Regions from separate parts of the Homo sapiens genome. Here region 2 is reported to be linked to region 1. The links are microRNA targets in miRTarBase. Many come from high-throughput screens and were not tested one by one. Region 1 holds a microRNA gene; the other region holds the end of a gene's coding sequence.
The links. Region 1 holds the annotated microRNA hsa-miR-181c-3p (AACCAUCGACCGUUGAGUGGAC, at 1,766-1,787, opposite strand). A microRNA usually pairs through its seed, bases 2 to 8, with sites in the 3' UTR of a target mRNA and lowers its output. Matches are read on the target gene's strand: a 7mer-m8 pairs with bases 2 to 8, a 7mer-A1 pairs with bases 2 to 7 and ends in A, and an 8mer does both.

Region 1 (3,516 bases):
GTTGTCTTAGTGGAACCCCCATTGAATGGATGAGCAAACTGAGGTGTGAAGCCACCTGCCCATCCAGTTATTTATAAAGACATGCACCAGGCCAGGGAGTGGTGGCTCATGCCTGTCATCCCAACAGTTTGGGAGGCCAAGACAGGCGGATCACCTGAGGTCAAGAGTTCGAGACCAGCCTGGCTAACATGGTGAAACCCTGTCTCTACTAAAAATACACACACACACACACACACACACAAAATTAGCTGGGCATGGTGGCGGGTGCCTGTGATCCCAGCTACTCAGGAGGCTGAGGCAGAAGAATTGCTTGAACCCAGGAGGCAGAGGTTGCGGTGAGCCAAGATCAAGCCACTGCACTCCAGCCTGGGAAACAGAGTAAGACTCTGTCTCAAAACAACAACAACAAAAAGCACCACATCTGCCTCCTTCTTCTAGTTACTGGGGCCCCCTGAGGCTAGGTGCTGGGGAGGGAGCCCTTTCCTGGCGGGGGCTGCAGAGGGGTGAGAAAGAACCCTCTGGAGTTGGGAGGTGGGGGATAGCAAGTTGGGCTGTTAGGAGGGGACCCCTAGTACCTACAGGTCTTCAGTGTCCTCCCCGAGATGAGATCTCAGCTCAGTCCCAGGAGGGGAGGGTGTGCTCAGGACTTGGACACAGAGGAGAGACGCTGTGCCGCTTACACAGCTCATCCACCCATCCATTCATTTAAGAAACTTTTATTGGCCAGGCACTGTGGCTCATTTTGAGAGGCCGAGGAGGATTGCTTGAACCTAGGAGTTGGAGACCAGCCTGGGCAACGTTTTGAGACCCTGTTCCTACAAAAACACTTTTTCGAAATAAGCTAGGTGTGGTGGTGCGTGCCCGTGGTTCCGGCTACTGGGGAGGCTGAGGCGGGAGGATCAACGCTTGACTCCAGTTATTAGAGGCTGCAGTGAGCTAAGGTCACACCATTGCACTCCAGCCTGGGTGACAAGAGCGAGATCCTGTCTCTAATTTAAAAAACAAAACTATGGAGCACTCCACGGAGCAGAACTTACCACCCACATTTCAGAAAGGGGTTTTAGGCCAGGCAAAGTGGCTCATGCCTGTAATCCCAGCACTTTGGGAGGCCGAGGGGGGAGGATTACTTGAGGTCAGGAGTTTGAGACCAGCCTGGCCAACACAGTGAAATCTCGTCTCTACTAAAAATACAAAAATTAGCCCACTGTGGTGGCAGATGCCTGTAATCCCAGCTACTTGGGAGGCTGAGGCCAGAGAATCACTCAAACCCTGGAGGCAGAGGTTGCAGTGAGCTGAGATTGGGCCACTGCACTCCAGCCTAGGCAACAGAGTGAGACTCTGTCTTAAAAAAAAAAAAAAAAGGGGATTTTAGCTGCCCTGCCCCAGCCTGTTTACCCCCAACCCTCTAATATTTAGTCCCAAATCCAGCCAGAGCCCATCCAGATTCCAGACACCAGCTCTCCTCTCCAAAGAGGAGTGGTTGGGGTCAGGGCAAAAAACAGGCTGAGTGACTGTGGCGGTGGGGGGTCCTGTCCCCAGTCCCCATTCCCCTTAAGCCGTGTCTGGCCCAGCCACAGTGACATTCATCCCCCGGTGGGTCTGGCCTCAGTCCTCACAACCCACCGACAACAATGAATGTTGATTGTGACCTCGGCTGTGGCCTAGGGGAGGGGACGTGCCCAGGCTGGATTGGGGGCTCCCCAGGCCCCCCTAGATCTGGAAGGTCAGAGTCACCGGCAGGAGGATGGCAATTCCAGGCCTCAGGGTCCACTCAACGGTCGATGGTTTGCCTGAGCTGCCCAAACTCACCGACAGGTTGAATGTTCCCCCAAACCCTTGGCAAATTTTCCGGGACCTGGAGTCGGGGGTGGGGTAGGTGGCAGGGAACCAGAGAGCATGAAGAGGGAGAGGAGGAGAGAGTAAGGAACCCCTTTTCTCTCATGAAATAAACAAACGCTTTTCAGGTGCTGTTTGCACCTAGATCTGGGAAAAACACAAGGCAAATATAAATGCTAGTAAATAAAATGTAGCCTTTGCTATGGGGATGGAGATGTAGCAGTGCAGGGGAGTGCTGGCCTCAAGCCCGCTCCTTAAGTAATTCACAAAGTGATCCTGGAGGTGCAGATTACCCCCCTTTGTCAACTGGGGAGACTGAGGCCAAAGGCCACTGCTAGTCCGAGGTGGAGGAGGCATTCCAAGTGTTCCCGGGAAGTCTGGCAACGGAGGATCCTGGCCCCGAGGGCATTGATGCAACGTGGAGATAAACAAGCCATTTTAATACAATGTAATACGTTCTGGGAGCTTCACTGAGTTCCGGGCACGATGGTTTAGGAATCACAACAGCGTGAGTGGAGCGCTTGGGGGTGGGGGGTCGTCAGGTCTCTCCACTTTACAAGTGCACTGGGGCCCCACTAGACAGGGGAGAGGCAGGAGGTTCAGAGAGGGCGCCGCTCGCCCCGCGTGCGCGGTCACACAGCATCTGAACTCGGGCACTTCCGGAGGGAGTCCGCGCAGCCACGTGGGGGCTGCCCCTTGGGCCTCAAAACCGGCTGCGGCGCCCCCTCTCCATTTCCTCATCCCTCAAATGACCCCCAGTCCCTTCCTCCAGTGATCGCACAGAGTTCGGCGACCACCCCCCCGCCCCGGGTGCCCCCAGGCCTACAGGTACGCACCCCTATCTCCCACCCCCCGCAAGCCAAGCAGTGACGACCAGGGATGGGCGAGCGCGCCTTCGCCCCTGACCTGGGTCTGCGGACGGCCTAGGAAGGTGCACCCGGCATGGCCGGGTGCTGCGGCTCAGGCCTGTAATTCAGTATTTTGGGAGGCTGAGGCGGGAGGATCTTTTGAGCCCAGGAGATGGAGACCAACCTGAGCAACATAGCGAGATACCTGTCCCTACAAAAAAATTAGCTGGGTGTGGTGTAGTGAGCCTGTAGTCTTAGCTACTTAGGAGGCTGAGATGGGAGGATCGCTTGGACCCCAAGAGTTCGAGGCTCGAGGCTGCAGTGAGCCGTGATCGCGCCACTGTATTCCAGCCTGGGTCACAGGACGAGACCCCGTCGTCGCAAAAAAATAAGTAATTTCCTGGCCCCTGGCATTTCACCGAGGGGAATACTGAGGCCCAAAATAACCGCCTGGCATAACCCCAAGGTAGATGAGGGACCCCCAAGTGTGCCGAGCTGCGTGAACCACCCCCCCACCACACCCCTCACGGTGGTGGCAACGGAACCCGGCCGAGCCCCCGAGGACGCGCCCCCGAGAGCCCCGCCCCCGAGAGCCCCACCCACAGTCTGGAGCCACCAGCCAAGGCCCCAGCCCAGGCCCTGCCCCTTAGAGCCCCGTCGCTTTTGACCTGTTCCCCAGAACACACTCCCTCTAAAACCCGCCCATATAGACTCCCACGGAGCCCACCGCCAAACCCCTAAGCCAGTCCTCAAAGAGCCCAGCTCCCTTAGGGCCCGCCCCCTTAGAGCCCTCCACAAAAGCCTGCTCTATAGACGCCCCGGGACTGCGTCC
Region 2 (3,000 bases), not on the chromosome of region 1:
AGGAGGAGCTGTGGTCGGACAGTGAACACAACTTCCTGGACGAGAACATCGGCGGCGTGGCCGTGGCCCCAGCCCACGGCTCCATCCTCATCGAGTGTGCCCGGCGGGAGCTGCACGCCACCACGCCGCTTAAGAAGCCCAACCGCTGCCACCCCACCCGCATCTCGCTGGTCTTCTACCAGCACAAGAACCTCAACCAGCCCAACCACGGGCTGGCCCTCTGGGAAGCCAAGATGAAGCAGCTGGCGGAGAGGGCACGGGCACGGCAGGAGGAGGCTGCCCGGCTGGGCCTGGGCCAGCAGGAGGCCAAGCTCTACGGGAAGAAGCGCAAGTGGGGGGGCACTGTGGTTGCTGAGCCCCAGCAGAAAGAGAAGAAGGGGGTCGTCCCCACCCGGCAGGCACTGGCTGTGCCCACAGACTCGGCGGTCACCGTGTCCTCCTATGCCTACACGAAGGTCACTGGCCCCTACAGCCGCTGGATCTAGGTGCCAGGGAGCCAGCGTACCTCAGCGTCGGGCCTGGCCCGAGCTGTCTCTGTGGTGCTTTTGCCCTCATACCTGGGGGCGGGTTGGGGGTGCAGAAGTCTTTTTATCTCTATATACATATATAGATGCGCATATCATATATATGTATTTATGGTCCAAACCTCAGAACTGACCCGCCCCTCCCTTACCCCCACTTCCCCAGCACTTTGAAGAAGAAACTACGGCTGTCGGGTGATTTTTCCGTGATCTTAATATTTATATCTCCAAGTTGTCCCCCCCCCTTGTCTGGGGGGTTTTTATTTTTATTTTCTCTTTGTTTTTAAAACTCTATCCTTGTATATCACAATAATGGAAAGAAAGTTTATAGTATCCTTTCACAAAGGAGTAGTTTTAAATTCCATTTAAAATGTGTATTTATTGGATTTTTTAAAAGCGACAATAGTAATGGTAAAGGATGGGCAGGAAAGGCCAGTAGTGCTCCCCCGCCCAGTCTCGCTGGGTCTGGCGAGCCAAGCCCCTCGGGCGCTGGCGAGGTCCTCAGCCATCTGCCCCTCGAGAGCCAAGCGCGGACGGTAGCCACCCAGTTCATCCCTCCCGACATACACCCCTTCCCTTTGGGGAAGGGAGCCTCAGGACAGCTTCTGTCCTCTCTGATAGGATGGGAGAGTCTGCAGAAAACCATCTGGGGTCCCTTTTCCAGTCCCCGGCTTGGAGTCGAAGGGCAGATGCACCCCAGGCCAGCCCCACGAGATGCTGGCATAGCTTTCCCCAGAAACCAGGTTGGAAGTAGATGGCTTCAAGCTTGCTAGTCTCCACACTGAATCCTCTGTCCGTTATTTATGGAGTCACACGATGTCATGGTTCACTAGGCAGCACCTCACGCTGGAGCTGGAGTGCGAGGTTCTTAGGGGCCGTGCCCACCATGTTGCCAAGCCAATGCATGCTGAGCTGAAGGAATTTGTCTTAGTGGCAGTTTTTTAAAAAATGCCCCCAAAGTCTATGCTGATACTGAAAAAGGGCTACTGTATCTTTAAAAACAGGAAGTTGAACCCAAGCTGTGAAAAGCCAGTGGTGCTCTGTGCATGGTGCTGTGCGGAGCCTGGTGCTGTAGTGTTGTGCTGGGACTTTCTTGACTCTTGGGCAGGTCACATCCTACAGGAGCTCAGCAGACCAGTGTAACAACAGTTAATGCATCTATCCTGATCCCTGAATTTCCACATTGGACAATGGTGCATGCCTCACACCTGAGCCTGCTTCCTCCATGCTGTCATTGGGTTCGGGGGCCTACACTTAACAATTTTAAAGTGCAAGAGTCAAACATTTTCAACAGGTTGCTATAATTTTCCTCCCTAATTGGTGCCATTTCTCCATTTGATCATTTTCTTTTTTTCCTTTCTCCCCTCTTCATCCACTTTAATATAGCTGTTCTGAAATTCTGGTGCATTCATTCGGTTCTTTGAAATGAGAATGTGGTGCTTAATTTTTGTGACGTTGTCGAGAGAGGTTGGGCCTGATGGGAGCAACACTCATCATCACCAAGTCAAACTTTGTTGGAGTGTTGGTTTTTCTTGTGATATTAGCAGAAATGATCTCATGCTAGCCATGTGGATGTGTGTGTGGTGAATGGGGGGCTTCATCAGGACACACAGAGGGGAATGTGGCCACACGGTGGATGACCACCAAGCCCTGAGATGAACAGGTATTTACTGAGCAGTTGTATTCAGATATGGGTCTTCATGAATCATGTTTAACAATCAGATGACCGCTATAGGCAAGTTCCTGAGCTTCCGGGTGCCTTGAGTAAGAGCTGAGAACCGGCCTGCTGGGTGTTTACTGTATCTGTTTGGAAGCACTGGCGGAGGGTCGTTGTAAGATGTCCTGAGCATTTATGTGGTCTGGTTTTAACTGTAAATAGTGAAAGATTTTTTTAAGCACTTTTGCCTAGATTTAAACAGCAACTTGAAAAAAAAAGTATGTTTTAACATGTAATTGTGGGAGAAATTGTAAATAGTAGCCGAATATTTAATGTGCTTTGTCTATCCTCCACTTTTACCATATTCTGTAAAGTTGCATTTATTTTACAGGACAAAAAAATGAAATATTATTGCTTTTGAAATAAATACCCAAGAGCTTATCAGGACTTAGAATTATTCAGAACTCAGATTTATAGGAAAACCTCTGACCTTCAGTTTGACAAGCTAAAGGAAGCAGAGTCTTTAATGAGCATGCTAATTTTCTAGTTTTGAGGAAAAATTGGGTCCTTTAAATGCTATTTTGCTTATCGCATCAGTACTTTTATGCAGGTCTCATTTGACTCCGTGCTTAGGTAGATGCGGGGGTGCCTTGAAAACTTCATTTTAAATGATCTTAAGCAAGAAATACAATATTTTACGAAACATTTGGAGAATGTGACCGTCTGTATGACCCGTGGAAGCCCCAGGTTGGCTGTTGGTTTGGAAGGTCCCGAGTGTAACCCAGGTGATTCTGATACTTGGCATGTGTGAATCTTCCTGAT

Region 2: the mRNA of TET3 is a reported target of hsa-miR-181c-3p. The part of its 3' UTR that is shown has no 7-base or 8-base seed match.

What each region holds. Positions count from the first base shown.
Region 1 is chr19:13,873,034-13,876,549 of GRCh38, reverse strand. MIR181C (microRNA 181c) reads right to left here and starts at 1,851; the gene lies at 1,742-1,851. It overlaps MIR181D (microRNA 181d), which reads right to left and starts at 1,675; the gene lies at 1,539-1,675. It also overlaps a transcript of NANOS3 not described here.
Region 2 is chr2:74,101,692-74,104,691 of GRCh38, forward strand. TET3 (tet methylcytosine dioxygenase 3) reads left to right here. Exons shown (of 12, transcript NM_001287491.2): 12 at 1-3,000. The coding sequence ends at 485. Among named protein-coding and RNA genes, the nearest start is that of BOLA3, 45 kb to the right of the region's middle.